Linked DNA regions of Homo sapiens. The protein of the gene in region 2 interacts with the protein of the main gene of each other region in a pairwise test. Each region holds a gene or a part of one and is shown on either strand. Other genes may lie near its edges. The genes, in order: TNPO2, FTO, CLP1 and IL16.

Region 1 (7,954 bases), on a different chromosome or scaffold from region 2:
TATAAAAAAATAGCTGGGCGTGGTGGCAGGCGCCTGTAGTCCCAGCTGCTTGGGAGGGTGAGGCAGGAGAATTGCTTGAACCCAGGAGGCTGAGGTTGTAGTGAGCCAAGGTCGTGCCACTGCACTCCAGCCTGGGTGACAGAGCAAAACTCCGTCTCAAAAAAAAAAAAAAAAGAAATGAAAAATCAACAAAGGCTTCAGGGGTATGGCTGTATCCAGGAGCTCAAAGGATGTGAAAGGCATCTTTGTGGTCTCAGATCTGCTTCCCTTGTGTTGGCTTCATTCTTAGGCACAACCTTCCCTCTGGGTAGTGCTGTAGCCTTCTGTGCCCTTCCAGCTTAGGAACTTCAGAGTAAAGAAATTTTCGACCAGTGTTTCCAACAAAAGTCCTAAAACTGACCCTCCTTGACAAACTTGGATTGCTTGCCTCTCTCCAAATCATTTTTTTCTTTTTTATTTTGAGACAAGGTTTTGCTCTGTCATCCACGCTGGAGTGGAGTGTCAAAATCATGGCTCACTGCAGCCTTGACCTCCCAGCTGAAGCAATCCTCCTACCTCAGCCTCCCAAGTAGCTGGGATTACAGGCACATCCCACCACACCTAGCTAATCTTTTCTAAGTTTTAGTAGAGATGAGGTCTTGCTAAGTTGCTCTGGCTGGTCTCGGATCCCTGGCCTCAAGCAGTCCTCCTGTCTTGGTCTCCTAAAGTGTTGAGATTACAGGTGCGAGCCACTGTACCCAGCCCCCAGATCATTATTATTATTATTTTGAAATTTCTGTTTTTGAGACGGAGTCTCACTCTGCTGCCCAGGCTGGAGGGCAGTGGCACAATCTCGGCTCACTGCAACCTCCGCCCCTCGGGTTCAAGCGATTCTCTTGCCTCAGCTTCCTGACCTTGTGTTCTGCCCACTTTGGCCTCCCAAAGTGCTAGGATTACAGGCGTGAGTCACCACGCCCAGCATATTGTATGTTTATTTATTTATTTATTTATTTATTTATTTATTTATCATTCATTAGAGGTGAGGTCTCACTATATTGTCCCAATTGGTCTCAAACTTATGGGCTCAGGCAATCCTCCTGCATTGGTCTCCCAAAGTGCTATAATGACAGGTGTGAGCCCCTGTGCCCGGCCCCAAATTATTGATAACAGTCTAGGGCTGGGCAGACGGCTCCTGGGGAGTGATGAGACCTAGATGAGCAGGTGATGAAGGCTCTGTCACTTACAACTCTGGGCTGCAGCTGAGGGGCTGGCTGCCTAGTCTGTTTGCTCCCCTACTCTGGCTAGTCTCTGCCCTATCTCAGGAAAGTGGCCAGGAATAGGACCGCATGTCCCTGCCTTAATGTTGTGCTAGGGACCAGGCACTGTACCAAGATTTTCAGTGTATTCAGGGGTCTATAATCCACTGAGTGGCCAGGCCTGGGTCAAGAGCTTTCCTGCAGGCTGAGTGCCATGGCTCACGCCTATAATCCTAGCACTTTGGGAGGCTGAGGCAGGAGGATTGCATGAGCCCAGGAGCATGAGGCTGTGGTGAGCTGTGATCGCACCAGTGCACTCCAGCCTGGGTGATAGGGTTACGTAGGGACCAGCCCCACAGGGTCGGTGGGTCTCTTCCTGTGTGCGGCGATGAGAGAGTGTAGAAATAAAGACACAAGACAAAGAGATAATAGAAAAGGCAGCTGGGCCCGGGGGACCACTACCACCAATGCGCGGAGACCGGTAGTGACCCCAAATGTCTGGCTGCGCTGTTATTTATTGCATACAAGGCAGAAGGGGCAGGGTAAAGAATGTGAGTCACCTCCAATGATAGGTAAGGTCACATGGGTCACGTGTCCACTGGACAGGGGGCCCTTCCCTGCCTGGCAGCCGAGGCAGAGAGGGAGAGTAGACAAAGAGAAAGACAGCGTATGCCATTATTTCTGCATATCAGGGACTATTAGTATTTTCACTAATTTACTACTGCTATCTGGAAGGCAGAGCCAGGTGTACAGGATGGAACATGAAGGCAGACTAGGAGTGTGACCACTGAAGCACAGCATCTCAGGGAGACGGTTAGGCCTCCGGATAACTGCGGGCAAACCTGACTGATGTCAGGCCCTCCACAAGAGGTGGAGGAGCAGAGTCTTCTCTAAACTCCCCCGGGGAAAGGGAGACTCCCCCACTTTCCTGGTCTGCTAAGTAGCGGGTGTTGTTCCTTGACACCTTTTGCTACCGCTGGACCATGATCCGCCTGGTAACGGGCGTCTTCCCAGATGCTGGCGTCACCGCTAGACCAAGGAGCCCTCTGGTGGCCCTGTCCGGGCATAACAGAAGGCTCGCACTCTTGTCTTCTGGTCACACCTCACTATGTCCCCTCAGCTCCTATCTCTGTATGGCCTGGTTTTTCCTAGGCTATGATTATAGAGCGAGGATTATCATAATATTGGAATAAAAAGTAATTGCTACAAACTAATGATTAATGATATTCATATATAATCATATCTAAGATCTATATCTGGTATAACTATTCTTGTTTTATATTTTATTATACTGGAACAGCTCGTGTCCTCTGTCTCTTGCCTCGGTGCCTGGGTGGCTTGCCGCCCACAGGGTTAGACCCTGCTTCTTAAGAAAAAAAAAAAAAAACCTTTCTCTGGAGGCAGGAGTGGTATCATTTATATCCTAATCATAGCGGCAGAGACTAGATTCCGATAATTCCCCAGAGGGAAATGGATCAATTTGCACCTAGCAGTACCATCATGCTCTGCAGGGTCTGCTCTGTGGCTGATTGGGGGGCTGGTCACTCTGTTGGCACCTGTTTGCCTCCTCCCCAAGCTGTGCCTCCCCCCAACTTTTGCCACGGCCCCTGCATCCCCATAAACAGTCCCTCTCTGTGCAGGTTGATCCCCATCTTGGTGAATGGGATGAAGTACTCGGAAATTGACATCATCCTGCTCAAGGTCAGGCAGGGCCCACCCAGCATGGGTGGGCATGGGCGTGGGTGTCGCGGCTGTGGTCCCCAAAGTACTTAACAGTCTGCCTGTCCCCCAGGGGGATGTGGAGGAGGATGAGGCTGTCCCCGACAGTGAGCAGGACATCAAGCCACGCTTCCACAAGTCACGCACGGTCACACTGCCCCACGAGGCTGAGCGGCCTGATGGCTCCGAGGACGCGGAGGATGACGATGATGATGATGCTCTGTCCGACTGGAATTTGAGTGTGTGCCCCTGCCTGGGGGTGGTGGTGGGGTGGCAAGCCCTGGACTCCCTCTTGGGAGGTGACTAGAAGCTGAGGCAGAAGCTGATTAGAAGCTGATCGTGGCCGGGCGCAGTGGCTTACGCCTGTAATCCCAGCACTTTGGAAGGCTGAGGCGGGCGGATCACGAGGTCAGGAGATCAACACCATCCTGGCTAACACAGTGAAACCCCGTCTCTACTAAAAATACAAAAAATTAGTCGGGCGTGGTGTCGGGCGCCTGTAGTCCCAGCTACTCGGGAGGCTGAGGCAGGAAAACGGCATGAACCCAGGAGGCGGAGCTTGCAGTGAGCCGAGATAGCGCCACTGCACTCCGGCCTGGGCGGAAAAAGTGAGACTCCGTCTCAAAAAAACAAAACAAAAAAAAAGAAGCTGATCGTGAAGATTCTGAGCATGATCTCTGATCCTGGGAGTGCAGTCAAGGAGGGTCGGCCACCTGCCTGAGGGGCCGCCCTGAGCCTCCCCATTGTTCCCCCTTCCCCAGGGAAGTGCTCAGCGGCTGCACTGGACGTCCTCGCCAATGTCTTCCGGGAGGAACTGCTGCCCCACCTACTCCCACTACTCAAAGGCCTCCTCTTCCACCCCGAGTGGGTGGTCAAGGAGTCGGGCATCCTGGTGCTGGGCGCCATTGCTGAGGGTGAGTGCGCCTGATCTCTGAGCCCTGTGCTGGCATGAGACTGTAGGGCTGGCCCACATTACTAGCCACACCAATGCCTCAGTTCTCCCTGGAGGCCTACTCACCCCACTCCAAACAGCTCTGAGATCTCAATTCTCCCCTTGGTTCCTGGGCCTGAAAGGAACCCCTGGAGCCCCACAGTGCAAGGCCTCTTGTTCATTCTTGCAGGCAGGTAGTTCTTTCATGTTGTAAGCATAATTACAGCAACAATGATAATAACAGCAGGCACAGCTGCATGCTTGCCTCGTGCACTTATGTAGACAAACATCCTTGGCCCTCACCACCACCTGATGAGCTGGGTGCCGGATCCCAGTTTCGAAGATGGGGAAACTGAGGTACAGAAAGATTGATGCCACTTCCTTACAGTCACTCAGGGTGTGTCTGGGCCTTAAACCTGTTCCTGGCTGCCGGGCTGGCCTGCCAGAGTCAGTAGTAACCCGTGGTAGGTGGTGTTTCATCAAATTCAACCTGGTGTTCTGTAATCGGTGGGGTTTTCAGGCTCCCATGGTCCCGGTGGGACATAAAACTTGTTACAGGAGGGCTTTGTGAGTCCGTTGGAGGCATCATATACCATTGCCTCAGCATCCAGACCTGTGCCAAAAATTTCAGGCATGGCAGCAAAAACCCTCAACCTTGTAAGCTTTCAAAATTTGTCTAAAATTTGTCTAGTTACTGTGGTGCACGCCTGTAATCCCAGCTACTCAGGAGGCTGAAGCAGGACAACTGCTTTAGCCCAGGAGTCCGAGACCAGCCTGGGCAACATAGGGAAACCCTCTTTCTACAAAAAATTTTTTAAAAAGGCCAGGTGTGGTGGCTCATGCCTGTAATCCTAGCACTTTGGGAGGCTGAGGCAGGCAGATCGTTTGAGCCCAGGTGTTCAAGACCAGCCTGGGCAATATAGTGAGACCTCATATCTACCAAAAAAAAAAAAAAAAAAAACCTGATAAAATTAGCCGGCGTGGTGGTAAGTGCCTATAGTCCCAACTAACTGGGAGGCTGAGGTGAGAGGTCAAGGCTGCAGTGAGCCATGATTGCGCCACTGCGTTCCAGCATGGAGAACAGACTGAGACCCTGTCTCAAAAAAAAATTGTCTAAAGAAATGTTTCGACATGTAATATGTGTTTAATGTATCTCATATCTCATGTTAATAGGGTATATATCACACAATACGCTTACATATGTTAATAGATTACATAAGCTGTGTTATTTATTTATTTATTTGAGACTGAGTCTTGCTTTCTCGCCAGGCTGGGGTGCAGTGGCATGATCTTGGCTCACTGCAACCTCCGCCTTCCAGGTTCAAGTGATTCTCCTGCCTCAGCCTCCTGAGTAGCTGGGACTACAGGTGCATGCCACCACGCCCAGCTAATTTTTTTGTATTTTTAGTAGAGACAGGGTTTCACCACGTTGGCCAGGATGGTCTCTATCTCCTGACCTCATGATCTGCCTGCCTTGGCCTCCCAAAGTGCTGGGATTACGGGTGTGAGCCACCTTGCCCAGCCAGCCACCACGCCTGGCCTCTTTTTTTTTTCTTTTTTTTTTGAGATGGAGTCTCCCTCTTATCGCCCAGGCTGGAGTGCAGTGGTGTGATCTTGGCTCACTGCAACAACATTCTGCCTCCCGGGTTCAAGCAATTCTCCTGCCTCAGCCTCCAGAGTAGCTTGGGATTGCAGGAATTCACCACCAGGCCTGGCTAATTTCTTTTTTTTTGAGACGGAGTTTTGCTCTTACTGTCCAGGCTGGAGTGCAATGGCGCAATCTTGACTCACTGCAACCTCTGCCTCCCGAGTTCCAGAGATTCTCCTGCCTCAGCCTCCCAAGTAGTTGGAATTACAGGTGTCCACCACCGCACCTGGCTGATTTTTGTATTTTTAGCAGAGACGGGGTTTCTTTCACTGTGTTGGTCAAGCTGGTTTCGAACTCCTGACCTCAGGTGATCCATCTGCCTCAGCTTCCCAGAGTGCTGGGATTACAGGCGTGAGCCACCGCACCCGGCCTGTATTACATGTTTATGGTAAAAAGATCTATAGGAGTTGAGCTCAAACTGGTAAACATAGATCTTGTGTCTTGGATTATTGGCAATGTGCTATTATCTTTGTTCTCTTTAAATAAAAGAGCAGAGTTCGTGATATTTTAAAAAAAAAAAAAAACCCTGGGTGTGGTGGCTTAAGCCTGTAATCCCAGCACTCTGGGAGGCCAAGGCGGGTGGATCACCTGATGCCAGGGGTTCAAGACCAGCATGGCCAACATGGCAAAACCCCATCTCTGCTAAAAATACAAAAATTAGCCAGGTGTGGTGGTGCATACCTGTAGTCCTAGCTATTGGGAGGCTGAGGCACGACAATCACTTGAACCTGGGAGGCAGAGGTTGCAGTGAGTGGAGATCACACCACTGCACTCCTCCTTGGGGGACAGAGCGAGACTCTGTCTCAAAGAAAACATTAAAAAATTGTTAAAAATGGCTGGGCACAGTGGCTCACGCCTGTAATCCCAGCACTTTGGGAGGCCGAGGCGGTTGAATCAACTGAGGTCAGGAGTTCGAGACCAGCCTGGCTAACACGGTGAAACTTCGTCTCTGCTAAAAATATGAAAAATTAGCCACACGTGGTGGCCCACGCCTGTAGTCCCAGCTACTGGGGAGGTTGAGGCAGGAAAATTGCTTGAATCAGGGAGGCGGAGGTTGCAGTGAGCCAAGATTGTGCAACTGTACTTCAGCTTGGGCAACAGAGCAAGACTCCGTCTCAAAAAAATAATAATAATAAATTAAAAAATTAAACAAAAATAAGGAGAAATAGAACAATCATAAACGGCCAGACACCTATAATCGCAGCACTCTGGGAGGCTGAGGTGGGATCACGTGAGGTCGGGATTTTAAGACCAGTCTAGCCAACATGGTAAAACCCCGTCTCTACTAAAAATATAAAAATTAGTTGGGTATGGTGGCGGGCGCCTGCAGTCCCAGCTACTTGGGAGGCTTAGGCAGGAAATCACTTGAACCCGGGAGGCAGAGGCTGCAGTGAGCCCAGATCACACCACTGCACTCTAGCCTGGGCAACAGAGCAAGACTCCATCTCAAAAAAAAAAAAAAAAAAAAAAAAAAAAGAAAACTCACAAACATCTTAAGAACTGTTTCAAATGCAAAGTGCTTTTATTCCATTTGGGTCACTGCTGCCCCATAAAACCCCACTCACTATGTAACGGAGCCAATTTTGAATTAACACATGAATTCAATTAACACATGAATTAATGCATGAATTGAATTAACGCAATAACACGGAGCTCTTTGGCTGGGCGCGGTGGCTCACGCCTGTAATCCCAGCACTTTGGGAGGCCAGGGCGGGTGGATCACGAGGTCAGGAGACTGAGACCATCTTGGTCAACATGGTAAAACCCTGTCTCTACTGAAAATATAAAAAATTCCCCGGGCATTGTGGCAGAGGCCTGTAATCCCAGCTACTTGGGAGGCTGAGGCAGGAGAATTGTTTGAACCAGGAGGTGAAGGTTGCGGTGAGCCATGATCGTACCACTGCGCCCCAGCCTGGGCGACAGAGCGAGACTCTGCCTCAAAAAAAAATAAAGATAACCCGGGGCTTTGGGATGAGAGGCTTCTGTTGTTTCCCCTCCTGTGCCTGCCTTTACCTGGCTCTGTGAAATGAGTCTGGGCCAGTGATTTAAACTCTAAGCCTCAGTTTCCCTATATGTTGTGTGCGGCTGACTCTTCTCTCCATACGGTGGGTGTGGCTGGGCCCAATCAAACTGCCCCCTCTTGGTTCCCTTTCCTTGTAGGCTGCATGCAGGGCATGGTGCCCTACCTGCCTGAGCTGATCCCGCACCTGATCCAGTGCCTGTCGGATAAGAAGGCCTTGGTCCGCTCCATCGCCTGCTGGACGCTGAGCCGCTATGCCCACTGGGTGGTCAGCCAGCCACCCGACATGCACCTCAAGCCCCTGATGACAGAGCTGCTCAAACGCATCCTGGATGGCAACAAGAGGGTACAGGAGGCGGCCTGCAGGTGACCCTGGACCCCTGATCCCACAGCCCCCACTC
Region 2 (7,954 bases):
ATTGAAATCAAGGCATCAATAGGGCCATACTCCCTTTGAAGGACTCTAGGGGAAACTCCTTCCTTGCCTCTTCCAGCTTCTAGTGTCCCTGGTGTTCCTTGGCTTGTGGTAGCATCACTTCATAACTTCTCTGCTTCCATCTTCACATGGCCTTCTCTCTGTTTCTGTGTCTCAAATCTCTCTCTCCTTTCTGTTAAAAGGATGCCAGTCATTGGATTAGGACCCGTCCTAAATCCAGGATGATCCTGAGATCCTTAAGAGCCTCAACTTAATTACATTTGCAAGGACACTTTTTCCAAATAAGGTTACATTCACACGTGCCGGGTTTTTGGATTCGGACATATCTTTTTGGGGAACAATATTCAAATGCACTGCACCCTTTTACATTCCTACCAACTGTTAGTAGGAATGTAAAATGAGAGTTCTACTTGTTTCATATCTTTTCATCGCTTGTCAGTCTTTTACATTTTAACCATTCTAGTAGGTGTGCAGTGATATTTGATTTTAATTTGCATTTCAGTGATGACTAATGAGGTTGCATATCTCTCTTTTTGTAAATCTTTATTGAGTGAGGTATAATTTACATACCATAAAATTCACCTGTTTTCAGTGTAGGACTCAATGGTTGGTAGCATATTTGCAGAGTCGTGTAACTGTCACCACCGTCTTATTTTAGAACAGTTCCATTCCAGAAGAAACTTTGTATTCATTTGCAGTTATTTCTCAATTCTACTTCCTCCCTAGGGAACCACGAATCTACTCTGTTCTTTAGATTTGCCTTTTCTGGACATTTTTATATAGATGGACTCATACAATATGTGGTCTTCTTTCACCCAGGATGTTTTTGAGGTTCATCCATGTTGTAGCATATATTGGTACTTTGTTCCTTTTTATTACACAGTGGATAGAATTCCAGTGTCAGGCCGAGCATGGTGGCTCATGCCTGTAATCCCAGCACTTTGGGAGGCCAAGGCAGGTGGATCACCTGAGGTCAGGATAACTTAGATCAAGACCAGCCTGGCCAACATGGTGAAACCCTGTCTCTACTAAAAATACTAAAATTAGCCAGGAGTGGTGGCACATGCCTGTAATTCTAGCTACTCGGGAGGCTGAGGCATGAGAATCACCTAACCTGGAAGGCAGAGGTTGCAGAGAGCCCAGATTGTGCCACTGCATTCCAGCCTGGGTGACAGAGTGAGACTGTGTCTCAAAAAAAAAAAAAGAATTCCAGTGTCAGGATATACCATATTTTGTTTATCTGTTCACCAGTTGATGGACATTTGATTTGTTTCTACATTTTGACTATTATGGAAAATGCTACTGTGAACATTTGCACCCTAGTTTTTGTGTGGACGTGTTTTCATTCCTCTTTGGTAGATACTTAGGAGTGGAATTACAGGACTTATGGTAAATCTATGTTTAACATTTTAAGAAACTGACAAACTGTTTACTTGTGTGGCTACACCATTTTACATTTCCCATCAGCCATTTTGAGGGTTACAATTTTGTCACATCCTTGTCAACACTTGTTGTTGTCTGTCTTTTCTATTGTAGCCGTTATAGTGGGTGTGAAGTAGTATCTCATTGTGGTTTGATTTGCATTTCTCTGATGGGTAATAATGTTATGCATCTTCTCATGTGCTTATTGGACATGTGTATATCTTCTTTTGTGAAGTGTCTGTTCAAAATCTTTGCCCATTTTTTTGTTGGATTGTTTGTGTTCCTATTATTAAGTTTTATGAGTTCTTTATATTTTCTAGATATAAATCCTTTGTTTACTATGTGTGTTGCAAACATTATCTTCCATTCATCTAGGTTACTTAATAGTTTTTAAGAAAGGTCCACTTTATCAATGTTTATTTTTATGATTCATGCTTTTTGTGTCATATCTATGCAGTCTTTATCCCAAAGTCACAAAGATTTCTTTTTTGCTTTTTAAATTAAACTTTGTCATCCCCATAATGGGCACTTAGTTTTTATTTTTCTTTTCTCTTTGAAATAACTTAGATCATATTTTCTCTCTTGTGATTGCTTATGCTATGGACTTTTATGCTGTTTCCAAGTCTGGAGGGTGAATAAGAAGGTTGGACCACATAGCTTTCTACGATTAACATTTATTTAATTTGTGTTAAGCACATGAGAATACTATACGGTATTCATGCATTTTTAAAATGAACTTTTCTTCTAAGGCATATAATAGAACAGTCCAGATAAGTATTTGATGGTTTGAGTTAGAACCATGGCGTCTACTATTTCCTTACTGTAGGGATAGGGGATTCATACCCCGTGCCTCAGTTTCTCCAGTCATTAATGAGGTTAAGAATAGCTGCTTCTGTGGGTTGGTGTGAGGACCCAGTGTGATGAGGTCTAGCTACTATTCCAGGGGTAGAGTAGCATGCCCTTGATTGAGTTTGGTGGCCTGAGGGGTCCTCTGCTGGGGTGGGGCTGGCCCTATGCATTTTTTCCCAGATGTTATAATTTATTATTTTGAAATGATTTAAAACTTATTGAAGAGCAAGAGTAGAACCTAGAGCTCTCATAGACCTGTTTGTCCATATTCACAGGTTAACATCTTGCTGTGTTCACTTTATTGCTCTCTTTCTCGCCATATATATCCACATGAACAATTTTTTTAATGAACCATTGCAGAGTAAGTCGGAGACATCAGTCCTCTTTACCCCTAAATAGTTCAGCATATATTTCCTAAGAACATGGACATTCTCTTGCATACAAATATAAACACAATCAATTGTTAATTTCAGAAAAAGTTAACATTGATATAATGCTATTATTTCATCCAAAGTCCATATTCAAATTTTGCTAATTGTCCTAATAATGAATTTTATAGCATTTTTTTCCTGGTCCAGGTTCCATCTGGATTGCATATTACCTTTCATTGTCAGGTCCCTTTGGTCTCTTCTCCTTTAATCTGGTGTCCTTTCATGTCCTTTAAATTGGTTCCTCATCCTTTTTCTTTCAAGACATTGACATTTGTGATGTGTGCAAGCTATCTTTTATTTATTTATTTATTTATTTATTTAATTTTTTTGTAGAATGGCCCTGTATTCTTATTTGTCTTATGTTTCCTTATGATTAGATTCAGATTTTGCCTTTTTTTTTTTTTTTTTGAGACCAAGTCTCGCTCTGTTGCCCAGGCTGGAGTGCAGTGGCGCGATCTCAGCTCACTGCAACCTCCACCTCCCGAGTTCAAGCGATTCTTCTGCCTCAGCCTCCTGAGTAGCTCAGACTACAGACACGTGCCACCACACCCAGCTAATTTTTGTATTTTTAGTAGAGATGGGTTTCACCATGTTGGCCAGCCTGATCTCGAACTCCTGACCTCGTGATTCACCTGCCTCGGCCTCCCAAAGCGTTGGGATTACAGGCGTGAGCCACCGTGCGCAGCCCAGATTTTGCATTTTTGCATGTATATTTTTGAGGAAAGATGGGGCCTCTAGAGGTCACATATTTATAATCCACATATGCCTCCTGGCTGTAGGTAAGTTTTATTTGGCCCAAACAAACTAAAAGTTGTTTCAGAATTATTTTCTAATATTTAAAAGTTGAGGGATTTCACATAAAGATCTGGGTGTCTGACTCTCTTGAAAAACTTAAGTATCTGGTAACAGTGGGCATGCATTTTCCTAACTAGAATTGAATAGTGGCTTCCCTTTTAGGTGGGAAATGTGCTTTCCATTTTGCTGTCATCCAGTTTTGCCCCTTAAGTTACAATATAGTGGTGTAGTGTGGAGCTTTAGATGCAGACTCCTGAGATTGAATTCTGCTCCCTCATTTACTTGCGCAAGCAATTTAACTTCTCTGAGCCTCCATTTCCTCATCTATCAAATAGGAGTGATATGGTTCTGGTAGGGATTGAGATATTATATAGCACATAAAACATTGCTGGCATACAGTAAAAATAAACATTGTTATCATCATCATTATCACCATCATCACCACCACCTTCACTACTGCCTATCTGACCCCAGTAGATATATATTCTGTATGTATATATATATATATGTATTCTGATCCCAGGACGTTTATTCTGTAAACTTATGTTGAGTGTCTAGTCAAGTGGATTTTCTCAAATGGGGTTCCATTAACTTATTTCCCATGCAGCCAGAATGGTACTAGTTTTGTACCACCTTTCAGAAAATTGAGAATATAGTCACTCAAACCATTTTCTGTGTTCTGTGGTTCAGATAAGGAACCTGATTAAGTGTCGAGTAGTGTACTCAGCACCAGGGTAAAGATGGCAGACACAGTCCCATGGAACTGGCTGGCTGTCCATGGAAGGTAAGTAAGTACCAACAGCAGAGTGGTGAGTTTTATCACGGGAGGACACGGTAGCAAAGAGGATCTAACATGGCCTAGTAGTCATGGAATTCCTTCCTTAGAAGATCTGTTTAAAGGTGTATCCTTATGAGAGGCCTGGGATTCCTTACGGGGTTTTTCAGAAACATTAAAACTGTTTCATTAGTCATGGAATAAAAAGCTATGGATGTTGAAATCCAAGTTAGCTTCAAAGACTCTTATGCTGGCTTAGGTTAGATAATCTTTTAAACTATTAAAAATAGAACTAGTTTATTATGGAAATGGTTATATACCTAAGAACATTTAATAATTTTGTTTGAGTAATGTACATTTTTATCAATGAAGGAAAATATCCAGAATATGTAACCTACCGTTTTAAGTAACATGATTTAAAAACTCTTCTGCTTTTGGTGATAGTTGTCTTATCAACTTTAAATGATAAGGTTTATTGAGTTATAAAAATAATAACTTGGCCAAATGCAGTGGCTTATACCTGTAATCCCAATGCTTTGTGAGGCCAAGGTGGAGGAGGCTCACTTGAGACCAGGAGTTGGAGGTTACAGTGAGCTGTGATTATGCCACTGCACTCCAGGCTGGGCAACAGAGTGAGACCCTGTCTCTAAATAATAATAACAATAACTCAACAAAAGAAAGTTTGTTATTTATGTTTTTACTGACTGGGTATTTTTACCTTATTTTATATTTCAAATTTGGCATTTTATTGAGGTCCTGAGAAGGTTCTTTTGGAGTCTACTTTTATTATGGGCCATTCTAGATTATGTCACCAGTTTATCTAAAGTGGACACTAAATATAGGACAGTTTTGGTGTTAGGCCAAAGACCAGGGGACTTGAAAAATGAAAACCTCACCTGACAGATTCTACTCTGTTTTTTTTCCTTCTTCCCGAAATCCATTATTATTTTTTGCTTAATCTCTCCTTCAATATATGGGTAAGCCTTTAATCACTGTTTCGGAGGTTTAGTTGACTTCTGTAAATAGAAGAAGAGTTAGTGTATTTGATCATAGTTTCCAAACCACTTTTAATACTGTACCTTACTTGAAAATTAACCAGCTAAACTATCGAGTAACAGTGAGTTCTTGTTGCTTTCTGTTATTTCCAGGCTGTTTCCTAACCCTCCTAGTACTGGTTTTGAAAACTAAATTAGCCATTCAAAAAAACTCTTAGACACTTTGAGCAAACAGTAGCTTCCTTGAAGATAGCATTTGTGTCTAATTCATCTTTTCATCTCTCCATTGTACCTGGCAGGATGTCTTCCACAAAGGAGACATTAATAAGTATCTGGTGAAGAAAGATTAAATGGTTGAGAGAGTCCAGCATCTGTTATGTGATATATGTGACCCTTCATAATTATGATTCTGGATCCTTGGCTGCTAATGAGATTTACTGTGGCTGAGTTTAGTGATACAGATTTTGGCATGTAGATGATAGTCTCCAAAAAAGTAGAGATCATGTTTTTTTTTTTTTTTCCGTTTTGTCATTCACCATTTTATCCCTAGCCCTTAAGATTTTGCCAGACACATGGTAGATATTCCATACTTGTCAAACAATGAATGAATGAATTCCCAAGAGCATCACTTGTTATTGGTCAGTAGACTTTCTAATAGTGAGAGATGGAACCGGAATTTGAAAGAAGTAATGGAAAATGGTTAAGTACCTTATGAATTTTAAATTAATATACCATAGGTGTGGGCATTAATTTTGAGAAACAAGACTCTTCTGTTCAACACATACTTTAGCAACTGTCAACACTTGTTTTCAAGTGTTCTCTTCCAATTTTAAAATGCCAGTTTACCTTTCAGATTTAGAGTATTTTGTTGTTGTTAGTTTATTATGGCAGTTTTCTTGCTAAAGTTATATTTAAAGTGTGACTTTCTAACTTCTAGAGGAGAGGAACTTTTGTTAAGGTGGTACTTTTGGAACCTTAATGAAAAACACACCTTAGAGAAGGTGAATTTAGAGTTCTGCTAAGCACATTCATTTACTCTTCTATTATAAACTGGTTTTGTAATATTTTATAAAATTGTCTCACTGGTTGATTTCACAATGTAAACTGGGAGGATTCTTAGGATTCCTTGGGTTGGATTAGAACAGGTTCAAGAGATGAAGATTTGTGTTGGTAGGGGCTTGTTTCCAAACGTTTGTCCTTGGCATGCTCTTTGTTAAGCCATCACATGTTTGAAAGTTAAACCTTGAATTGGTGCCATGGTTTGCATTTAAAAAAATGTATTTTATTATGGTAAGAACACAACATAAGATCTACTCTCTTACCACATTTTTAAGTGTACAATAAAGTATTGTAAACTGTAGGTACAATGTTGTATAGCAGATCTCTGGCACTGATTCATCTTGTATAATTGAAACTTTATGCCGCTTGATTAGCTCTTTCCCATCCTCCCAGCCCTGGTCATCATCTTTCTACTCTCTGATTCTATGAGTTTGACTATTAGACGTACATTTTTGTTTTTGCTATAAGCATCTGTCCTGTTGCTATGCTGATCATTTATTTACTCTGTAGTTTTGGAAATGACCTGCTTACAAGATAACCATGCCTCCCCTTATGTTAAAAAACTGCCATATGGATAAAGGGCAGTTAAGACCTTTACAACTGGTAGAAACCAAGTAGAAAATTCAGTTTGAAGGACCAAATTATGTTGCAGCTGCTCTGAGGAGGAGATTTGTTGCCAGAGCATGAGTGTTTTCATAATTGTTTGTGATCAGAAAATTCAGAGCTCTGATTTCTGCATTAGCCCTAAGTCTGCCCTTTGGCACCTTCATTTAGTGATTGGATCATTCAAGGCTGAGCCTCAAGGGCCAGCATTTCTCCAGTAATAATATAAAATGGGCTGATGTTGCAACCTTAACTCACTCTGCTGAATTGGGCATGATTAAAGTCTCAAGGCTGCATTAATATGGATTTTCTATTTCTATGTACAGCCGTCCATTATCTCACTATTTTCCAGTTTGCCATTTTTTGAAAACAAAGATGGAAAATTCTGCTGATGAAATTTTTTTTTTGTCTGTCAGCACAACAGCATTTTTTGGGCTTAAGAATATGAGAATAGCACCGGGCAAATGAATGCAAACATTACAGTTTATGTGGACTCTAGCCTGTTGTCATGTCAATCTTGTTATTTAGGTAAATAGTGTGCAATTTTTCACCAAATCAGCAGCCAATATGCTGCGAGCCATTTTTGTTTTAGTTACATTATTGGCTGGTAACACTATTAATGAGACAATAATTGGGAAATAGTAGTCATTGTTCTCATAAAACACGATCCTTGTGTTGGAACCACAGCCAGGCAGAGGAGTTGCATATGCAGACTGCAAGGGAGGAAAGGATGAGTAGCCAGTGTTCCCAGCTTTTAAAATCATCAGACCCCTGCTGCTTAAATTGCCCCAGCTGTTAATGCTGGAACCATTACAGTAATGGACTCAGCAAATGAAGGAGAACGAAGACACGCACACTTTATTACCAGAGGGGCAATTTTCTCTTCATATGTAATAGCAGCGGTGCCTCATATTGATCAGACCATCAAGATACTAATCCTCTGTAAAATTACTTTTTATAACTGAAAATGTGTTAATCCAAATCAGTCTGTGTCCTGACTGTCTACT
Region 3 (7,881 bases), on a different chromosome or scaffold from region 2:
CAGGAAGGGGAACATCACGCACTGGGGCCTGTTGAGGGGTGGGGGGAGGGGAGAGGGATAGCATTAGGAGATATACCTAATGCTAAATGACGAGTTAATGGGTGCAGTACACCAATATGGCACATGTATACATATGTAACAAACCTGCACGTTGTGCACCACATGTACCCTAAAACTTAAAGTATAATAATAATAAAATTTAAAAAAAAAAGAAAAAAAAAGATTTTGAAAAGCAATTGTTGAGGAGAACAATGAGAAGTGGGAAAAGGCAAATGATTAGTTTTCAAGGCATGGATCGAAAGTTCTTTTGTTTTGTTTGTTTGTTTGTTTGTTCTTTGAAATGGAATCTCGCTCTGTTTCCCAGGCTGGAGTGCAATGCCATGATCGAGAATCACTGCAACCTCCGGCTCCCGGGTTCAAGTGATTCTCCCACCTCAGCTTCCTGAGTAGCTGGGATTACAGGCATGTGCCACCATGCCTGGCTAATTTTTGTATTTTTCGTAGAGACGGGATTTCACCATGTTGGTCATGCCGGTCTCGAACTCCTGATCTCAAGTGATCCACCCACCCTGGCCTCCCAAGGTGCTGGGATTACAGGCGTGAGTCACTGGGCCCAGCTCGGATTCAAAGTTTGGAAGCAGGCCGGACACCTGTAATCCCAGCACTTTGGGAGGCTGAGGCGGGCAGATGACCCTGAGGTCAGGGGTTCAAGACCATCCTGGCTAACATGACAAAACTCCTTCTCTACTAAACATACAAAAATTAGCTGGGCATGGCAGCGGGCGCCTGTAATCTCAGCTACTTGGGAGGCTGAGGCGGGAGAATTGCTTGAACCCGGAAGGCGCAGGCTGCAGTGAGCCGAGATTGCGCCACTTCACTCCAGCCTGGGCAACAAGAACGAAACTATGTCTCAAGAAAAAGAAAGAAAGAGAGAGAGAGAAAGAAAGAAAGAAAGAAAGTTTGGAAGCAAAAAGAAAATGATCAAGGATCTAGCTGGAGAGGAGAAAAAGAACATATGATGACGGTATTGTTTGGAGGTGGGGTGGAGATGGCAGGAGTGCTTGGTGAAAGATTAAAACTGAGAAAAGAGCTGGGCGCCGTGGCTCACGCCTGTAATCCCGACATTTTGGGAGACCGAGGCAGGTGGATCACCTGAGGTTAGGAGTTCGAGACCAGCCTGACCAACATGGTGAAACCCTGTCTCTGCTAAAAATAGAAAAATTAGCTGGGTGTGGCAGTGGAAACCTGTAATCCCAGCTACTCGGGAGGCTGAGGCAGGAGAACCGCTTGAACCCGGGAGATGGAGGTTGCAGTGAGCTGAGATCGCACCACTGCAATCCAGTCTGGGAGACAGAGTAAGACTCCATCTAAAAAAAAAAAAAAAAAAAAAAAAAGTGAGAGAAGAGAGTGTAGTCAAGCACAGATGCTTTAAATGTTGTGTCCTGACTCTTTCTGTATTTTAGAGGCAAAATGGAGAGCAGCCTAAAGGAAAGGAGGGGTTCTTTTCCCTAAGTTCAGCTTGAGATGGTTATACAATATCCAAATAAAAACAACTTTCAGGTAACTGGGAGAAACTGCCTCAAGGGAGATAGTAGAGGCGAAGATACAGATCTCGGAGATAGATTGCATGGAAAAAGGCGAGGATAAGCCCACTCAGGGAGAAAATTTGCAAATGGAAGACTGGAACTGAATTTTTAAAGAAGAGTGGAAGATTAGGGGACACACAATAGTTAATTGAAAAACTAATGCATAGGCCGGGCGTGGTGGCTCACGCCTGTGTTCTCAGCACTTTGGGAGGCGGAGATGGGCAGATCACTTGAGGTCAGAAGTTTGAGGTCAGCCTGACCAACATGGTGAAAACCCCATCTCTACTAAAAATACAAAAATTACCTGGGCGTGGTGACACACGCCTGTAATCCAAGCTACTTGGGAGGCTGAGGCAGGAGAATCACTTGAACCCAGGAGGCAGAGGTTGCAGTGAGCTGAAATTGCACCACTTCACTCCAGCCTGGGCAACAGAGCAAAACCTCATCTCAAAAAAAAAAAAAAAAAAAAAAAAGCTAATGCATATATGTTCAATGAATGAAATAATTAAAGCAAACCATCAAAGAAAAACTCAGAAGTGATAAGTGAGGATGGCACTGCTTGGGGAGTGCTGCTAAGTAGGGCCAGCAGGAGAAAATCTTTCTGGCGAACCAGAAAATCTTCCCAGTCTCCTCAATATGAATTAACTACGTGAGCCGGACTGAAAAAAGTACTCACCTGTAAAGTGGAGATGACAATTATAGTACCTACTGCATAGGATTCTGGCTACGATTAAATGAATTTACACCTGAAAAGTCCATAGACCAGTATCTGGCATATAACAGTATATAAATGTGGTTTTTTGTTTTTTGTTTTTGTTTTTTTGAGACAGAGTCTCGCGCTGTCGCCCAGGCTGGAGTGCAGTGGCAGGATCTCAGCTCACTGCAAGCTCCGCCTCCCGGGGTCAGGCCATTCTCCTGCCTCAGCCTCCCTAGTAGCTGGGACTACAGGCGCCTGCCACCACGCCCAGCTAATTTTTTTGTATTTTTAGTCGAGACGGGGTTTCACTATGTTAGCCAGGATGGTCTCGATCTCCTGACCTCGTGATCCACCCACCTCGGCCTCCCAAAGTGCTGGGATTACAGGCGTGAGCCACCACGCCCTGCCTTAAATGTGATTTTTTTTGTGAGACAGAGTCTCACTCTGTTGCCTAGGCTGGTGTGCAGTGGCGTGATCTCAGTTCACTGCAACCTCCGCCTCCCCGGTTCAAGCGATTCTCCTGCCTCAGCCTCCCAAGTAGCCGGGATTACAGGCGCCCGCCACCACGCCTAGCTAATTTTTGTATTTTTAGTATAGATGGGGTTTCACCATGTTGGTCAGGCTGGTCTCGAACTCCTGACCTCAGGTGATCCGCCCGTCTCGGCCTCCCAAAGTGCTGAGACTGCAGGCGTGAGCCACCGCGCCTGGCCTAAATGTTTACTATTATTATAACCGGACTCAGAAACTCTGGGTTTGAGTCCTAGCTCTACCAATGGCTGTTAATGTTTGGGCAAACCTCTGCACCTATCTGAGTCTCCTCCCCCATCTGAAATTGGATATAATAAAGCTGTCTTTACAGGGTGGCTGTGAAAGAAGATGCCTGAAAGGGATCTGAAAAATGTTAAGTATTGCACGAATGAATGATATTATAGCCCCTTCCGCCCCAGCCTATAATAAAAACGTAAAAGCTGATATCAGATTTTTTTCTATATTACAGGCATTGTACTTAGTACTTTACAGGCACATTCCTGCAATCGTCAAAACAACTTTAGGAGGTTGGGCACTGTTATTATCCCAACTTTGCAGACAAAAAACGATATCACGCTTGAGCCCAGGAGGTCGAGGCTGCAGTGAGCCATGTTCGCGGCACTGTACTCCAACCTGGGCGAGAGAGTGAGACCCTGTCTCAAAAACAAAAAGAAAAAAAAAAACGATCTCAGAGAGATGAAGCCTGTGATTTGCTCAAAGTCACACAGTAATGTAAGCAGTATAGCAAATAATATAAGATTCCAAAGCCCAAGGTAGTAAAAAGAGGATTATAGACGTGGTGGAACCTGTTGGCTGCGGGGCAAATGACTGACCTGTAACTGTCAGGGATTTATGGAGGGAAATGAGTGCCTAACAAAAATCCTCGTTTAGTGGGAGAGAGGTTGTTGGGTAATGACTGACTTGTAGCTGGAAGAAATCATCGGATTTTTATTCTTTTATTAAAGAAAAAAAATTTGAAATGCCTTCCATGTGCCAAGCACTGTGTCAGGTGGGAGATGACAGCTTGGTGAAACCTCTGTCAGGCTGTCTTCCTCCGCTTTCTCTATCCCTGGGTTTCCCCCTGCCTAAAAAGGATTTTGTGCTTCGTGGCTTGTCCAGGCAAGCAGGCCGTCGCGGGACCTAGACCGAGACAGTGAGTCTCTCTTTCTCCCGGGCCTCCCTTCTGTTTCCTGGGCTGCAGGGGAGCAGGAAATCTGGGGCGAGATTCCCGCCGCGGACGCGCACTGCCGAAGCCTGGTCCCTCGACCTGTCCCTGCCCAGCGCGGGGGCGCAACCGCCACGCCTCCTCACCCCTCCCTCCGGCTGCACGAATAATGACAACAGCCGCCCCTCCCACCTTTGGCGTCACGTTCAAAACAATCCTTTGACTACAACTCCCAGAAGGCCGAGCGGCTTAGCGAGTGCACCCGCTCTCGGCTGCTCCGGCAAACTACACATCCCAAAGGGCAGCGCGCGACCGCGTGTCCTTTCACAGCGCAAGTGCGGAACTGCGTTTGTTTCCGGCGTGGGTCCGGGCAAGAACCGCTTGTAGTTTGGTTTAAATTCTGCACGGGAGGACCTTCTGAGTTTACCTGTTGGGCTCCTGGCTGCGCAGGTGAGTTAAAAAAAGGGCAGGAACACAACTGTCACCTCCTTGGGGTCTGGGGACATTTTGGTGTCTGGGGAGATTTTGGTGTCTTGGGGAGATTTTGGTGTCTGGGAAGGTTGGGACAAATGCTGGAGCTAGAGCTGCAGTCCAGGATCAGAAATAATTCATATCGTTTCCTTGCCGTTTTCTAGTTTACGAAGTGCTTTTTTTTCCTCCCACAATTCCTGTAAACCCCAAGAACAACACTGTATTTGAGGAAGTGTAAGTGCTTCCAGTCGACAGCTTCAAAGGTTCAGAGAAGTTAAGTGATTGTCTAAAGACACTACTAGTAGTTACAGAGACGAGGATTAGGCTGTTTTCTGAGTTCAGACCCGGTGTGCTCTGCTTTGCATCCGTATTTCAGACGCCCTTTCCTGTTGACTAGGATGATTGGGGTCAGGGCATCTGTTACCTTCTCAAGTTTGGAGTTTACCAATAGAGTGATGGAGGGTGATATAATTAAATCTTCTGTCAGTCTGTAGGTATGGTTTTTCTCTGATGTCTGAGACATTAATTCACTCAATGTATTGAGGTGCCTACAGTCTGTCAAGCTGTATTCTAAGCAGTATATAGTATCAAACAAAAATGCCTAAGTCTTACATTTTGGGGTGGAGGAGGCGGGGAAGACACAATATATAGTGAGACCGATGGTGATAAGAAATATGGAGAGAATTAAAGCAAGGTAAGGGGAAACATTCATTGTATGTTTTTATTATTTATTTATTTATTTGTTTATTTTATTTTATTTTTTTTTGAGACAGAGCCTTGGTCTGTCACCCAGGCGGGAGTACAGTGGCATGATCTCGCCTCACTGCAACCCTGCAACCTCCACCTCCTGGGTTCAAGCGATTCTCCTGACTCAGTCTCCTGAGTAGCTGGGACTACAGGCGCCCACCATTATGCCTGGCTAATTTTTGTATTTTTTAGTAAATACTGAGATTTCACCATGTTGGCCAAGCTGGTCTTGAACTCCTGACCTCAGGTGATCCACCCACCTTGGCCTCCCAAAGTGCTGGGATTACAGGCGTGAGCCACCAGGCCTGGCCAATATTTGCATTTTTTCTACAGACGGGGTTTCACCATGTTGCCCAGGCTGGTCTTGTACTTCTGAGCTCAGGGGATCTGCCCAACTCAGCGCCCCAAAGTGCTGAAATTACAGGCCTAAGCCACTGTGCCTGGCCCATTGGATGATTTTTTTTTTTTTTTTTGAGATGGAGTCTTGCTCTGTTGCCCAGGCTAGCATGCAGTGGCACAATCTCGGGTCACTGCAGCCTCTGCCACCTGGGTTCAAGCGATTCTCCTGCCTTGGCCTCCCAAAGAGCTGGGATTACAGGCACCCTCCACCATGCCCGGCTAATTTTTTTTTTGTATGTTTAGTAGAGACAGGGTTTCACCATGTTGGCCAGGCTAGTCTTGAACTCCTGACCTCAAGTGATCCAGCCACCTCGGCTTCCCAAAGTGCTGGGATTACAGGCGTGAGCCACCATGCCTGGCCCCATTGGATGTTTTTGTAACAGAAGACTGACTTATAATTAGATCTGATATTTAATTTGTGTTCTAGGCACAGCAGCTACACAGAAGAGATGGGAGAAGAGGCTAATGATGACAAGAAGCCAACCACTAAATTTGAACTAGAGCGAGAAACAGAACTTCGCTTTGAGGTGGAGGCATCTCAGTCAGTTCAGTTGGAGTTGTTGACTGGCATGGCAGAGATCTTTGGCACAGAGCTGACCCGAAACAAGAAATTCACCTTTGATGCTGGTGCCAAGGTGGCTGTTTTCACTTGGCATGGCTGTTCTGTGCAACTGAGCGGCCGCACTGAGGTGGCTTATGTCTCCAAGGACACTCCTATGTTGCTTTACCTCAACACTCACACAGCCTTGGAACAGATGCGGAGGCAAGCGGAAAAGGAAGAAGAGCGAGGTCCCCGAGTGATGGTAGTGGGCCCCACTGATGTGGGCAAGTCTACAGTGTGTCGCCTTCTGCTCAACTACGCAGTGCGTTTGGGCCGCCGTCCCACTTATGTGGAGCTGGATGTGGGCCAGGGTTCTGTGTCCATCCCTGGTACCATGGGGGCCCTCTACATCGAGCGGCCTGCAGATGTCGAAGAGGGTTTCTCTATCCAGGCCCCTCTGGTGTATCATTTTGGTTCCACCACTCCTGGCACTAACATCAAGCTTTATAATAAGGTCAGAGCCAGAGAAAGGTGGGGTGGAGGGAAGGGCTGCTATCAGGGTAGGAAACTGGAGAAGTTTACTAGTTAACACTGCATTTTCTCAGCTGGTATTTCTGCTGCATTACTTTAGAAAGGCAATTCCAAATATGTCAGTCTCAGATTGTTAAACATTTCTGTGGATCTATTCTTAGTAATTTGTTAGATTTTCACTTAGGGCATAAAACAGGAGGCAGAAGCAGCAACATAAAAATTAAATCCATGTTATGGTATCAAAACTACAGCCATTAAAAATGTCATTTTTTCAGGCTGGGTACAGTGGCTCATGCCTGTAATCCCACAACTTGGGAGGCTGAGACGGGTGGATCACCTGAGGTCAGGAGTTGGAGAGCAGCCTGGCCAACATGGTGAAACCTTGTCTCTACTAAAAATACAAAAAGTAGCTGGGCGTGGTGGCTGGTGCCTGTAATCCCAGCTGTTCAGAGACTGAGGCAGGAGAATCACTTGAACGCGGGAGGTGGAGGTTGCAGTGAGCTGAGATCGTGCCACTGCACTCCATCCTGGGCAACAGAGTGAGACTCCATTTCAAAAAAAAAATCATTTTTCTTATATCTAATAGCACTTATTCTAAAGAGGAACAAAGTAGCCATGGGTTTGTCTGGGTGTTTTTGTTCTTACCTTGATCCTCTCTTTTGCAGATTACATCTCGTTTAGCAGATGTGTTCAACCAAAGGTGTGAGGTGAACCGAAGGGCATCTGTGAGTGGCTGTGTCATTAACACCTGTGGCTGGGTCAAGGGCTCTGGTTACCAGGCTCTGGTGCATGCAGCCTCAGCTTTTGAGGTGGATGTCGTTGTTGTTCTGGATCAAGAACGACTGTACAATGAACTGAAACGGGACCTCCCCCACTTTGTACGCACTGTGCTGCTCCCTAAATCTGGGGGTGTGGTGGAGCGCTCCAAGGACTTCCGGCGGGAATGTAGGGATGAGCGTATCCGTGAGTATTTTTATGGATTCCGAGGCTGTTTCTATCCCCATGCCTTCAATGTCAAATTTTCAGATGTGAAAATCTACAAAGTTGGGGCACCCACCATCCCAGACTCCTGTTTACCTTTGGGCATGTCTCAAGAGGATAATCAGCTCAAGCTAGTACCTGTCACTCCTGGGCGAGATATGGTGCACCACCTACTGAGTGTTAGCACTGCCGAGGGTACAGAGGAGAACCTGTCCGAGACAAGTGTAGCTGGCTT
Region 4 (7,954 bases), on a different chromosome or scaffold from region 2:
TGGAAAGGAGAGGCATCAGTGGAGTCTGGAAGGTAAGACAAATGGTGAACTTTGATGTAAAATATCTTTGCCTTCTTAGAAAGCTTAGGATTTATCCATTAACTCATCCTCTATCCAAGGAATAGTAACAGCATTTACCATAGACCAGCATAGTATGTAGACAAAGGCTGAAAACTAGCAGCCCACCAGCTAAATTTAGCTTATATTTTTGCTTTGTTTGGAAGACACAAGATTTTAAAAGCATCTGAATTTAAATTGCTACAAATGTGCCAGGCTCTCTCCAGCTCCCGGTGGTCTCCACCGTTCCCTTTATCCTGTACCAAGTTGCCATTCACACAATAGCCCCTGCAGGCACTTGAGTTTGCAGCCCCTAGTTTATAATAATAGAATATTAGAAAAACTAACATTTGGGAATATAATTCTGACATTTATTTAATTCTTATAATTCTTATAATAAATCAGAGACTATGCTAATTCATGCATTCACACATAATTTTTATGCAAATTTTATAAGAAAAAGTGAGGCCCTCAGAGACTCTCTTACTCAAAGTCATACCACTAGAGCACAGAGGCTCTGGAATGGAGATCCAGCTGGCTTGACTCCCATGCCTAGCCATTGGGCATTAATCACGTCTACCATGGAACATCCTTATGAAAGAACAACATGCAACCATTGGCACTGATATTGACAAGAAATTAAATGATCTGGGGAAATGTTCAGAGAAAAGAACAGAACACAATTTATTTCAGCTCTGGTTTATTATTTCTACCCACCCAACATGCATATATGCTCGGGAAAGCATGACAGAGAAACTCACCAAAATTTTGACAGTAGTTATTTCTGGCTGATAGGAACACAGGTGAAGTGAATTTTTACTTTCATTCCTTCCTCCTTGTGGCTGAGTTTTCTCTAAGGAGGATGCATTATTTCATGATCAGGAAAAAAAAAAAGAAAACTTTTTATTTAAAGAGAAAGTGAGTTAGGAGCTTGGCTGGCCTTGGTTCTCTCTCATGGGGCTCCTCTGGCTTTCTTGGTCTCTCAGAATGAGCTGGAATTTGAGCAAGAGACTAGATTTCAATCCTCTCCCACCCCTTCAAGCTGTGATTTTAGGAAAGGGGCACCCTTGACAGCTTACCACTAGAGAGAAGGGCCTCTCAAGGATGTGTGGGTAGCCCTAGTGCTGGAAACTAGGGTAGGGGGTACTGAGAACCAGGAAGGGCTAATGGGGAGGGAGGGAGGAAGGTGCAGTGGCTAAGAAATAGCGGCTTTCTGCCCTCACCTCACCCTCAACTGGAAAGAAATAGTGACTTCTTCGTGTAAGATTCAAAGTGCCTTGACAGGTAGTTTCTCTGTCTTTGTTATTGAGCCTCAAAATAACCCCAGTGACTTTAAAATTATCATCCTCATTTTACAGATGCAGAAATGGAGTTGGGTCCCCCAGGAAGCTGACTCTGAGATGGAGTTTGGTCTGCAGGCAGTGTCCTGGGGTTCACTACCTGTGGCAGGGAGGGGAGCAGGCAGGGTAGACAGAGGGAGGACGGAGCTGAGGTGCACACCCAACAGCTTCAGCCAAGCCCTGGAGCTCTGCAGCCAAAGTCCCCATTAGAGTTGTCCTATGTTGGCCAACATAGCTGGGCCTCTGTAACCCTATCTCCAGCAGTCCCTGGAGATGGGCTGCCCCATTGGACAAGGCAGCTGTCTGCAGCTGTGGCAGCCCCTGGAGGGACCCACAGCTGAAAGTAGTCTGCCAGCAGCACTCCCCACAGCTGGGACACCAAGCCCTTCCTCGATGGGTGATCTGGGTGGCATATCTCCATATACATCAGTCATAGGCTCAGAAAGCTTGAATGATTTTCCCAACCCAAAGTCATACAGCTCGCCAGGGACCAACACCAAGACTGCCATACTCCAGATCCACAGTGACTTCAGATAAGAAGCAGATGGCCGATGTGCAGTGTGCTGCCCGTGGCAGTCACAGGTGAGGCCAGGGGGTATTTCTGTTTTCTGAAGCTCAGCTGTGAAGATTCTCTTGTGCTTCCCACACAGGTGTCAAAAGGCTGGAAAGCAGTTGGCACGGGCGGCCCACCTTGGAGAAGGAACGAGAGAAGAACTCAGCACCCCCGCATCGCAGGGCTCAGAAGGTCATGATCCGCTCCAGCAGTGACAGCAGCTACATGTCTGGGTCCCCAGGGGGAAGTCCTGGGAGTGGCAGTGCTGAGAAGCCGTCCTCTGACGTGGACATCAGCACACACAGCCCCAGCTTGCCTCTGGCACGGGAGCCAGTGGTGCTTTCTATAGCATCCTCCAGGCTGCCCCAGGAGAGCCCACCCCTCCCAGAGAGCCGGGACAGCCACCCGCCGCTGAGACTGAAGAAATCCTTTGAGATTTTGGTGAGAAAGCCTATGTCCTCCAAGCCCAAGCCTCCACCCAGAAAATACTTTAAAAGTGACAGTGACCCTCAGAAGAGTCTGGAAGAGAGAGAGAACTCCTCATGCTCTTCTGGGCACACCCCACCCACCTGTGGCCAGGTAAGAGGATGGGTCCACAGGTTGAGTGTTTCCAGGACCAGACTCAAATCTTGAGCATGGGCAAATTAGCAAGTTAGTGTTAGCAGGGCCAGAATGAAAGTTTCTCCTGCTCCACCAGAGAGAAACTGTTGCCTAGGACTCAGCTGAGGACTGACCATGAAAAGATGGGTTTGAAGGTTGACAGATAATTGAAGTCCCAGTCCTGCTTGCTGGCATCTGGGTTCCCACCCATAACACACTGGAATTTAAGGTTCCTTTCTTGTGTCATTTTTCACTCACCATGAAGGAAAAATACCAGGGCCCCTGCAGGGTCTCAGTCTTTGCATGTGGATCTTTGAGTGTCCTGCTTGTAGGGAGAATAGTGGCTTAAATAACTAAAAAGGGGCCTGGCACGGTGGCTCATGCCTGTAATCCCAGCACTTTGGGAGGCTGAGCCGGGTGGATCATGAGCTCAGGAGTTCAAGACCAGCCTGGCCAAGATGGTGAAACCCTGTCTCTACTAACAATACAAAAATTAGCCGGGTATGGTGGCAGGTGCCTGTAATCCCAGCTACGCAGGAGGCTGAGGCAGGGAATTGCTTAAACCCGGGAGGAGTGGCTCCTTCCAAGGGCTATTGTGAGGATTAAAGGTAACCACTTAAGGCAAGTACCTGACAGCATCTCAGGCATATTAGCATTCATTGCCATGATCTTTCCCCATCAGGCCCCTTAAAGCCCTCCTTTCCACCCCTTGCATAAAAGGCAGACTGACTGACAGACAGCTGCTGTGTCTAGAACCATTTTATGCGCAGGCTAACCACACTGAGTACTTTCATGTACATTGTGTCAATTAAATCTTACAACCACCTGATGGTGAGAGTCCCAGTTGTGCAAAGAGGGAACTGAGAAACTCGCTCAAGTTCACATTGCTAGTGGGTCACAGTTACCCACTATGCAATGCTGAGTTTCCCATCCTTACCCAGAAGCTGTCTCCCCCATCACGGAATGGCCCTGCAGGGGCCCTGGCCCTTCCCTTAAGCACACCGTGGGCAGGTGGGAGGGGGCCTCTGGAAATCCCCTAAAACAATCTACAGTGAGGGTTGGCAAGCTTCAGGAGGGGTAGCGGTGGAGACGGGATGTTGAGTAGGAGGGGTGAAAGTGAAGGAGGGAGGAGGAAGCCAGGTTACTAAAAAGGAAGTGCAGTTTTGCAGAGCGCTGGCAGGATGTGGCTGGTTAGCAACACATGATGGAGTTATCAGATGGATCTGTTCTCCCACCCCCTCTTTTAAGCCCATATTTCATTTTCCCTTGGGCCTGAGACCTATGAGTCCAGAAGGGCAAATCAGGAGCAGCCAGCTGAGAAGCCAGTCATTTTGCCTTCCTCCTGGAGGCCCAGAAAAGGAGTGCAGTTGCCACAGCAGGTCTGTCCCAGTGATGCCCTTGGCAGAGCCACATAGGGTCAGGGAATATTCCCGAGTAAGGCGTCTGGAGAAGGAACTGGGGTGTCCTCAGGGAAGCCCAGGCAAGGAACTTCCCACAGGTCATCTTTCATGCCCTGTGTGCCTCAGCAGAATACAGGGCTCCCTCCTGTACCTGCCCCCAACAGCACCGTCTCCTGGAGACAAGGCCGTTCTGCAGCTGCCCTCCTCTGTTTGCTCTGGTCTGTCCCACGTGGCCAGCAGATCCTTCTCCCACAAACATTTCCATAAAAGCAATCAGCACGACATAATTTTATTGGGCACTGGAGAGGCGGGGGTCACAGAGAAAGGATCATAGCACGCAATAGAAAACAGGAAGCAATTTGCTTGAGGTCACTCTCAAAATTTCCTTGACCATTCCTGGGGATTTCTCACTGGATGTTTTCTTCCGTGGCCACAGTGTCCACTGTCTCACTCTCCCACTTTTCCCTCCCTGCAGTCTTTTCTCTACAGGGTCCCAAGACTGTTGTCAAGCTGCTATGGATGACCCCCAAGTCTTTCCCATCTACTCTAATTCAAGGGGACTTAACTCTCACAACCAATATGAACTTTGGGATATTTTCTTCAACAAAAAACTAACATCCCTCTTATAAAAAATCAGCCTAAACTCTCCCCCGTGCTTTAAAAAACTTGCTTAAAAAAACACAACAGGATTTTCGAAGAATCCTTTCTTAGAAAACAAACAAAAAAACCAAACAAAAACGTACTTTCTCCCCACTATGCTGAATCTGCTCTCTCCCTCTTTCCTTCTTTCTCTTCTCCCTCCCTCATCCACCAAGCATGGTTCCAGGAAACACTAGTAAGAGAAAAATTTGTGTAAAATCAAATTTATTTCAGGGGCTAATTCTGAAGTCTCCCATGAAGAGGATGCAATATTGGATGTGTTGATGAAAAGACAAAACACATTTGTGCTGTTCTAAGTTGTAAAGCTGCATTGACTGCAGTTGGTATCACATGTGGCTGCCTGTAAAAGAGCTAACAATTCATGAATGTCAACAGATGTCAACTTACAGAGCTCCCAACCAGGTGAAATTAAATTTCATCCCCATGTAATTTCTCTTGTGGACAAGAGACTTAGAGATCATCAGGCCAATATTTGGAGCTTCTAATGCCATGACTCAGCCTTACTTTTTTTAAGGGCTAGTTCGAGAAGCTCAATGATTCCTTTGAAATTGGTTGATCTCTCAGTATTTCATAATGCTCTCCTAAAGCTCAGTTCTACAGTAGGGAACTCGAGCTGAGGCAATGCTCTGTGAATACACTTCTAACTTTTGTAGACCTTTGCTTCCTCCAAAATGTTTATTGTCAATGTAGATCTTAAATTTCAGGTCATGGATATTTGCCATTGCTTTTTTAGTCCCAAAGGATGCATTTGTTCCTTCCTCTTTCCTTCCTCTCTGGAAGGAAGCCTGCAGCCATGTCAAATGGCCCATCATTACACAAATCTGGAATGAACCGGACGTGGAGGCCACCGCAGTATAGCAAAGCATTTCTCTTGCAGACAATCAAATACAGGTGGCATCATTTTGATGATGTCTGCTTTCTCAATCTTTTTTTCCAGATGGGTATTATGTTTGGTTGGGCTATGTCTCTGGAACACTATTTTTCTGCCTCTCTGCCTGCAAAATTCTTACTCTGTTTATGAAGCAGACAGAAAGTACTTCTCTAGGAAGCCTTCTCCACCTCTGGGATGGAACTGGTCTCTCTGTTTCCTCTGGGCCCTGACAGTACCTTAAGCACACTGTGTGATAATCCAAACTCTTCAAGTATTGCATAGCTATTCAGAGCCTGGTTCATCTTGTCCCTAGGCTGTTTTGGGAGGACCCCAAGGCTGCATCCAGGCTCAGTGGTGGAAACAATTCTGCAACAGATTGAGGATGTCACCCTAGGTGCCACAGAGGGGAGCAATGGCACAGGTGCTGAGTATCTGTCATCTTTTGCAGAACACTTACTAAATATTTGAAGAGTGCTTAACAAGTGACAGCAATTGACAAGCATTTTCCTGAGTGCTCTAACCTTAGGGAACACTAGCTGCCAGGTTTTTTTGCTGCCTTGTTTCTACGCTGCCCTATACCCTCCCGGGGTGGGTAGTTCACCAGATGCAGTTGTAACTGAAGCAATGCCAGTCCCTCCACACTCAAAGCCTTTTGTTCCTATCATAAAGAGTCAGGGTCTTCAAGTATGTCAACAGTATGAGCCCATGACCTGGATACCAGGTTGCTGGAAGTCAAGGGATGCTCTGCATGTCTAGGAGGTGCTGGCTCTGCCACGTCAGCACCAAGGAGAAAAGAATCCTCTTTACATGGCTGCTGATGAACTTCTCACTGAAAGCAGCTCAATATCCGTTTTTCCGTCCCAATCAAAGCGTGTCTCGCCTTCTCACAGCTTGAGGCTACCGTTTTGACATGGTCTCGCTTCCTGTTTACACCACAGGAAGCGAGAGAGCTGCTGCCACTGCTGCTACCACAGGAAGACACAGCAGGGAGAAGCCCTAGTGCCTCTGCCGGCTGCCCAGGACCTGGTATCGGCCCACAGACCAAGTCCTCCACAGAGGGCGAGCCAGGGTGGAGAAGAGCCAGCCCAGGTAAGCTTTCATTGAGATCTTCCAAAAGGAAGGGTCTTTTGAAAAAAGGTGCAGGGATAAGATAAGAGCACAAATTGGCCTGAGGATCAGAGTGCTCTGCATTGACATCACCACTGGACCTGGCTGATCAACAGTCAAGGGTTCCAGGTGCTGGGCAGCAGCACCGTGGAGGTGCTGTCCAGGGTGGGGAGCCTCCTGGGTGGACGGGTGATGCTGTGGGGGTGGCAGCAGGAATGCAGGCCATTCTGGATAATTGGGAGGATGGAGCCCTTGGAAGAGGTCCAAAGACACACCCACCCAGCCATCCTGGGCAGCTACCTCTAGGGTGCCAACATTCCAGTTGCAACAGTCCTGCTGCATTCAGGATTTCTGAGTCAGAGAATGCAACGCCAGAAAAGTATAAATAGCATCTACCAGTGGTCACCTCCTCCATGAGGTGGATAGCAAGGGTGTGTCCACATGGTACACCTGACAATGCTAAGACATGACTTGAATATTTATTTGCTTGCTAGAGAGAGCATAGGACTTGAAGTCAGGGAATCCTGGATCTGTCTGTCATTAGTATGATTCTGAGCAACCTACTTTGCCTTTCTGAGCCCAGATTCACTCATCAGCAATGTGTGGAAGAGCACGTAGACCCCAAGCATATGATGCATTCAGCAAGCACACATTGAATGCTGGCTTCGTGAGGCCCTGTGCTAGATGCTGGGGGGAGAGAGAGAAAGGGATGAGACCAGGTAGTCAGGTCCTGCCTCCAAGGAGCAACTAGTAGTGGCAGGAAATAAACATATAGACTATAAAACATATGACTGTTTGAGTAACACTACAGAAAAGCTCATGAAAGACTTTTGGAGGGCTAAGGGACATTTTGGAAAGATCTAGCACATCTCACCCAGAGCAGAGGCCCTGTGGGTGGAGGCTCCTCTCCCTTAGTCACCCTAATTGAGGAACATTCTAGCAAAAGCAAACGCCTCAGTGTTTAACTGACAGGAGGTTGTCACTCCAATCTGCAAAGGGCTTGCCTGTGGAACCTCTGCCTCCTGATTCTCACAACAGCACCTTACAGCCAAGCCATTCAAAAATGCAGAAACAGGCTGGAGGCCTGGGCTCACTTGCCCAAGGCCAGTCTCTTAGATTGTGCAGAATTTCTCTTTGATATCATCAAGGTGTAATGCTCCATGATTCACTTCTTTTGAAACCTGGCATTGAGACAAGGGACAGGAGGGATCAGAGTTCCTTCAACTGGGTTGCGTTCCAGTAGCAAGCATCCCCCAAGGCACACAGGCCAGCCTCCCTCTGCCCCTGGGAAAGAGAGCCAGGACACCCTCTCCCTTACCCATGCAGATATGATGCTGGTTCAATGCTGGCTTCTGAGAAAGACTCC

The links.
Region 1: the proteins of FTO (region 2) and TNPO2 interact in binary tests that used the Homo sapiens proteins (3 or more experiments, as listed by UniProt).
Region 3: the proteins of FTO (region 2) and CLP1 interact in binary tests that used the Homo sapiens proteins (3 or more experiments, as listed by UniProt).
Region 4: the proteins of FTO (region 2) and IL16 interact in binary tests that used the Homo sapiens proteins (3 or more experiments, as listed by UniProt).

The regions. Positions count from the first base shown.
Region 1 is NC_000019.10:12,706,535-12,714,488, reverse strand, and holds part of TNPO2 (transportin-2), read left to right. Parts: intron 1-2,875; coding exon 2,876-2,936; intron 2,937-3,027; coding exon 3,028-3,193; intron 3,194-3,715; coding exon 3,716-3,868; intron 3,869-7,693; coding exon 7,694-7,919; intron 7,920-7,954. UniProt on the Homo sapiens protein: Probably functions in nuclear protein import as nuclear transport receptor. Serves as receptor for nuclear localization signals (NLS) in cargo substrates.
Region 2 is NC_000016.10:53,707,156-53,715,109, forward strand, and holds part of FTO (alpha-ketoglutarate-dependent dioxygenase FTO), read left to right. Parts: intron 1-7,954.
Region 3 is NC_000011.10:57,653,435-57,661,315, forward strand, and holds the start of CLP1 (polyribonucleotide 5'-hydroxyl-kinase Clp1), read left to right. Parts: upstream 1-4,327; 5' UTR 4,328-4,426; intron 4,427-6,020; 5' UTR 6,021-6,042; coding exon 6,043-6,648; intron 6,649-7,330; coding exon 7,331-7,881. UniProt on the Homo sapiens protein: Polynucleotide kinase that can phosphorylate the 5'-hydroxyl groups of double-stranded RNA (dsRNA), single-stranded RNA (ssRNA), double-stranded DNA (dsDNA) and double-stranded DNA:RNA hybrids. dsRNA is phosphorylated more efficiently than dsDNA, and the RNA component of a DNA:RNA hybrid is phosphorylated more efficiently than the DNA component.
Region 4 is NC_000015.10:81,290,509-81,298,462, forward strand, and holds part of IL16 (pro-interleukin-16), read left to right. Parts: coding exon 1-32; intron 33-2,047; coding exon 2,048-2,529; intron 2,530-4,509; exon of another isoform or gene 4,510-4,823; coding exon of another isoform or gene 4,824-4,874; exon of another isoform or gene 4,875-4,940; coding exon of another isoform or gene 4,941-5,012; exon of another isoform or gene 5,013-6,419; coding exon 6,420-6,570; intron 6,571-7,954. UniProt on the Homo sapiens protein: Interleukin-16 stimulates a migratory response in CD4+ lymphocytes, monocytes, and eosinophils. Primes CD4+ T-cells for IL-2 and IL-15 responsiveness. Also induces T-lymphocyte expression of interleukin 2 receptor. Ligand for CD4.